Regions from separate parts of the Homo sapiens genome. Here region 2 is linked to region 1. The links come from fine-mapping of genetic effects on plasma protein levels. Region 1 holds a variant in brackets. A gene starts in the other region. All regions are shown on their forward strands.

What was found. PIP is the posterior inclusion probability: the model's chance that the variant is causal. Protein levels are from antibody-based Olink assays in UK Biobank. Linkage for the fine-mapping came from a reference panel and not from the study's own genotypes, which makes the PIPs less certain.
Region 2: LAMA4 starts here. The variant in region 1 is fine-mapped to the plasma level of the LAMA4 protein (UK Biobank, PIP above 0.99).

The regions. Positions count from the first base shown.
Region 1 is chr17:35,934,170-35,937,077 of GRCh38, forward strand. LYZL6 (lysozyme like 6) reads right to left here. Exons shown (of 5, transcript NM_020426.4): 4 at 2,586-2,664; 5 at 349-696. The coding sequence ends at 627. Among named protein-coding and RNA genes, the nearest start is that of RDM1, 4.9 kb to the left of the region's middle. The variant G/A (reference allele first, on the strand shown) is at 1,081.
Region 2 is chr6:112,252,786-112,255,693 of GRCh38, forward strand. It overlaps LAMA4 (laminin subunit alpha 4), which reads right to left and starts at 1,782. Exons shown (of 39, transcript NM_001105206.3): 1 at 1,674-1,782; 2 at 1,171-1,506. The coding sequence starts at 1,365. All of the region lies in intron 2 of LAMA4-AS1 (LAMA4 antisense RNA 1), which reads left to right.

The DNA.
Region 1 (2,908 bases):
CACCCCCAAATTATTGGTATCTGCCACTATTTCTCCATCCCATCACTACTTTCTCCACATCAATACCAGACCCCACCCATTGCCTACTTCTGAGTTTTCTCTTTTACTTCAAAAATTGTTCTTTGGAGGAATTACTTGGATGCTGATACTGTTTCAAAGCAATAATTATGGATTTTACTATACATTTAATTACCTATTGTAATGTTTGTGGATGTCTCTGCTTCTCCACCTAGATTATGAACACCTAAACAACAATAGCTGTGTTTTGTCTTCCTTCTACTACCTAGTACACTCCCACTGTCTTAGGTACTCAAATATATGTAGACTAATGAATAAATGGACACAGTCTTTGCAGAGCGAGTGCTTTAATATTTCGATAAATATAAAGATTTCTTTATTGTGGTCCTCAGTTTACAAATAACAGACAGGAACCAGGGGACTGGGTCCAGATGGGAGTAAGGAGGAAGCCAAGAAAACCATTTATTCCTGGGGCTCTGGTCAGTTTTAGTTGTAAATGGGAAGGGAAGAAAATAACATGAAGTGGAGGCAGTAGGAAGAAGAAATGAAGAATCCCTGAGTGAGGACAGGAGTCTTGGAATGACTCCACGGTGCACCCGCACCCTGTTTCATCTCAGGCGGCATCCTGTCAGCCAGTAGAAGAGTGGCCGGCCTGAACAGTGCAACCTCCATTCTACCCTGCGGAGAAAAAAGACATGGTTCTTGCCTCACACTCAGTAACTCTTCCACACACATGACCCAGTTCTTGGTGAGTCTCGCATATGGAGCAACGCCCAGAATCCCCGTCATTGCTAGCTAGCCCTCTGGTCTGTCCTCCACTGTCCCCTCTGACGAATCCTGTAAAACTCTCTCATCTCTGGTGTTTGCCTGCTTCCCTGGATCAACGTTTCCACATTTTAAAATCCTCATATCTCCCTGAAGGGGTGAGCACTGTTTTACAGGGCTGAGAGTTACTTATTAAAAAAAAAAAAAAAGTCCCAGGTACAACCATTGATTCTCCCTCCAGAAAGGATCAGCATAATCATCGCTGTCAATTCTTTTCTGTGGTGTTTTGAGTATGCA[G/A]GGGATTTGACTCCTTCCACAGTTGCCTGTAGAGGCAGCCATTTGTGTTACTTATATATCTAGTTTGAAGCTCAGAAAAGGTGACTATCTGAATGTCCACCGTTGGTGAGCTCACAGCTATGTGGGTGTCTGCCCAGCTGATGAATGCCACATTTTTTTGTTGTCGTTTTTTGTTTCTTTTTTTGAGACGGATTCTTTCTCTGTCACCCAGGCTGGAGTGCAGTGGCGCGATCTCAGCTCACTGCAACCTCTGGCTCCCGGGTTCAAGCGATTCTCCTGCCTCAGCCTCCCATGCAGCTTGCCTTAAGGAGCATGGACAGAAAGCAAGGGAAAGGTCCCCAGAGAGATCCCGGCCCACAGGGTCAGTGCCTCATCCCCACATAACACAAAAAGCAGCCTGGGACAGGCACCCACCACAACGCCTGGCTAATTTTTGTATTTTTTAGTAGAGACAAAGTTTCACCATATTGGCCAGGCTGGTCTCGAACTCCTGACTTTGTGACCCACCCACCTCAGCCTCCCAAAGGGCTGGGATTACAGGAGTGAGCCACTGCGCCCAGCCGCCACATTTTTTTTTTTTTTTAAACAGAGTCTCATTCTGCCGCCCAGGCTGGAGTGCAGTGGCGCGATCTCGGCTCACTGCAGCCTCCACCTCCCAGGTTCAAGCGATTCTTCTGCCTCAGCCTCCTGAGTAGCTGGGACTACAGGCAGGCGCCACCATGACCAGCTAATTTTTTGTATTTTTAACAGAGACGGGGCTTCACCATGTTGACCAGGCTGGTCTCGAACTCCTGACCTCAAGTGATCCACCTGCCTCAGCCTCCCAAGGTGCTGGGATTACAGGCGTGAGCCACCATGCCCGGTCCACATTTTTAAATAAAAAAATATTGTCAATTATGGCCACAGGGCCCGAGCGGCAGCCATAATTGTATTGCTTAACTCCTCCCATCCCTACAGTTGATTGGACCAAGGGGGCACACATGGTCCAAGTGGAACCAATCAGATTCTCTATCCCAGGAACTTGGACTGGGACTGAGCCTAGCCAGTCCCTATGGTTGCTTAGGACTTTAGCTTATTAACTTTGCAGCACCCTTTGTCCTTTAGACTGTGGAGCAGAGAAAGTCTGCGGAGAGAGAAGTGAAGCAAATGCACCAAGAGAAGCTGAAACCTGCCATGGACAGTGTGCTGACAATTTCCAGCCCTGGTTCCATGCTCTTCCTGAGGCCCAGCTGCAGCCCTTGAGTGGGCTCAGTGAGACATCTGGGCCTCTCAGAATAAATTTCCCCCAGCTAGCTCAAGTTGTTTTCTGTTACTGCAACCAGAAGAGTTTTGTTTAATACAATATCATAGAAGAACCAGATCTCAGAGTTCCAAGCCCGTCCGCTATCCCACATCTTTCTAGACACTGCAAGGGCGTGCCCGTGAGTCCTTGCCTACTGCCCTTTTCTCTGTCACGTCCTCCTTCGTGGGGCTCTGCCCGCTGAGTCCCACCGTGTCCTCCTCACCAGTTGTTCATCCCCCGTGCTCCGGACACAATCCTTTTTGCGCAGTGGATGCCTGCAAGAAGGTTGGGATTCAGCAGATCTGAAAGGGAGGAAGAGAAAACCTGTGAGGGCACAGAAGACAGCCCCAAAGATGGAGGCAGACACCAGCCCTCCCTGGACAGCCCTATGCCACCTAGAGGCTTCCAGTTGAGGCAAAGGCTGTCTCCCAGGGGGCCCATTTAGACATCCCTACAATGGCTGCTAGAGGTTCGAGGTGAAAGGGGGTGTGGGCAGAAGGGGCAAGAGGCCTGAGATTTGGGCCTGTTCACTACTATTCTTCCTAA
Region 2 (2,908 bases), not on the chromosome of region 1:
CTTCTCCCCAAGTTTCTGGGTATGAAGTTGACCAGAAGCCATGCTCCCTCTTTTTCATGGAGGCTACATTTTATACCACAGTGAGAGGTTGGCATATTCTGACCCTGTCCACTCTCTTTTTTGGGGCAATGTGGGTAGGGCTTACTCTGAAGAAGGACCATGTTCATGCACCTTATTTTTAATCATCAATAATTAATAACTATAATTGTACTAACAATTAACAGAATTCATAGCAATAATCCATGCATCAGTGATGTTAGAAATGGTGTCAATCCACATAACTGTTTTAGTTGTACAGTTGCTGTAACCATAGCTATAGAGTGTGGTGTTTGTTTTGCTAGGTCAATTGCTCCTTCCTTTCCCATGAACTTAGGTGACTTTATTTTCCTCCCTCTTAGCATGTCCCATGCAATGGGCATGCTGTTGTCTGTTTCAGTTCAGGGGTTCTTAAATCACTTGTTCTGGATTCATTCTCCTTTACCAGACCTCTACATTCTGGTTTTGTTTCCAACTTAAAAGCTATTGTAAGGTATTCAAACAGCAGCTCTTTGAATAAACATATTATCAATAGCATATCCTGAGGCTTGATTTTAATGGAAACATCTTGTTTCTGGAATACAATGGCTCGTTTCTACTTAAGATACCCTCTCAGCAGTTGTCTAACAGCTCCTTTCATGACCAGCCACTCTCACTCACCCCCTCACCTTCCCTGCTGCAGAAGACTTCTTGTCTAATATGAGACAAAAAGATCCTGCAGTAGTGTTCCCACTGTCCTAACAGCACAGAGGAGCAGGAAGCCAGTGACAGGGCACACACGTTAAGTGCCGTGGCTTGACAAAATGACTACTGGGACACGCAAGTGGCAGAAGTCACCGATGTGCTGCTGCAGTCCCCGGTGAGAGTCTAGCGGATGAACTCAGAGCACCAACACATGCACTCTCACCCCTTTGAGCAGACACATTCCGAAGCCTCAACTTTCAACTCTCAACATCCAAATGCAACTTACAAAGGAAAACTCTTTATTTCAAGTTTCCGAACTGACCTAGCCCAGGTGAAACTCTCAAGGCACTGGGGAGAGGAAAGAGGCGGAGAGAGAGAGAAGGACGAGTGTGGCACAGCCCGCGGGGGCGCAGGTGCCCCAGCAGGGTGGCAATGGCAGGGACACTGTACCTCGGCCGCAGGCGGCAGGCGTCCCAGAGCCACGCGGGGTTCGCTCGTCTCAGGCGGGTCTTGCCTGCCAACCGCTGAGCTCCCTTCAATGTCAAAAGGAAAAGCGTTGTCGTCCCCGGACGCGGCGCGGGAGCAGGCAGCGCTCCAGAGGAGCCACAGAGGCAGAACCGAGCGCCAGGCTGAGCTCAAAGCCATTTCTCCGCTGACATCCAGTAGTGCTCTTCCAGGGCTCGGGCGCTGTGGGTCTCCGTAGGTCTCCCGCGTGGTGCGGCGGTGCCTCGCTTATTTTCCCTCCTCTCCGTGTGCAGTATCCCGAGGTGGCTGCGCAACCAGCAGCTTAGGAAATAAAGGGAAAGTGCGAGAGTAAGGGAGAGTTCCAGCCTCTCTCTCCCTCTCTCTCTCTCCCCTTCTCCCCCTCTCTCTCCCTCTCCCTCTCCCTCTTTCACTTTTTCTCCTTCCCGCAGAGGTTCTGGCTCAAGAACCTACAGATGGACGGAGCTTACAGTACGGCATCAAAAGGCAGACGGATTGGGGTGAGCCCCGCCAGCGCTAGGCCACCTCCTCTCCCTGGCCGTTCGGGACTGGGGACTGCGCTGTCCTGGCTTCCTTCTCACATTCATTCTCACCACTCCCTTTTTACCTTCTACTCCCAGGCCCTCCCACTCTAAGCTGGCTTTTCAGACACTGAGGTCCGCCTTTCCCTGCGGTCTTCCCTCCCCTCTCAGTTTGGAGCCCCTCCAAGGGCTCCAGAAGAATATTCAGCTTTTGTGACGCTTCCTCACCACTCTTATTTATGTAGTCAAGGTACCGGATGTCTTATCTATATTTACATAGATATTTTATGTGGCCCCCGCTAGTTTGCAGGAAAGTGGGTGGAAAAGGGATTCCAGGGCAGGAACCAAAGGTAGATGATCTCTGAAGGCAGAGGGTCAGGGTGCCCACTTTCTTGAGCAAGGTTTCTCGGGTTTTTTCTGGGGGATAGACTGTTGCACTCTTTGTGCTAATATCTTCTCTTCAGATTCACTGGCCACCCCTCTTCCTCCCTCCAGTCCTCACCCAGAGGGCTTGGGAGAAGAATATCTTTCACTGCAGCGCTGGAAAATGACTTCATTACCCAAATGCATGAACTTTTATTTACAAAGACCATCTTGTTTTCATCCTAAAGAGGTGCTTTGTAAGGGGCCCGGAACAAGGCTTGCAGTGTATGAGCCTGTCAAGTATACTGCCTACAGCCCCGGCCTCTTCCTCTTGGCCTGTAATCTCATGCCTACTACATCTGTCTGAATCATGTAACCTTTCCAAGACTTCAGGGTGAAGTTGGGCTACAGCTATGTCAGGGGTGCCCCTGTGGATGGGATAGTGTCTGCAACAGCTGATAGGTACCTTTGTTTACATTGGCTTCATAACGAGCTCTAAACATTTCCACAAGATCCAACCATGGTTTAAAAATGGTCAGATGAGACAACCATAAAATGACACCCAGGTAAGCTTCCAGGTGAAATAAAGCATTTTTGTATAACCTAATCATAAAATAAATAAATAAAGCCTTTCCATAAAACCTAATCATTAGCTCCATTTCATAGAACAAAAGTCATTTTATCTAAGTGTAAGCAAAACCATTTATTTTGCACCTAACATGTGCCAGATACTTGGCATATGCTATTTGTAAACCTCAGCATTCCTGCAAAGTAGTACCATTATTTTCCTTTTACAGAAGAAGAAAGTGAGGTTCAGAGAG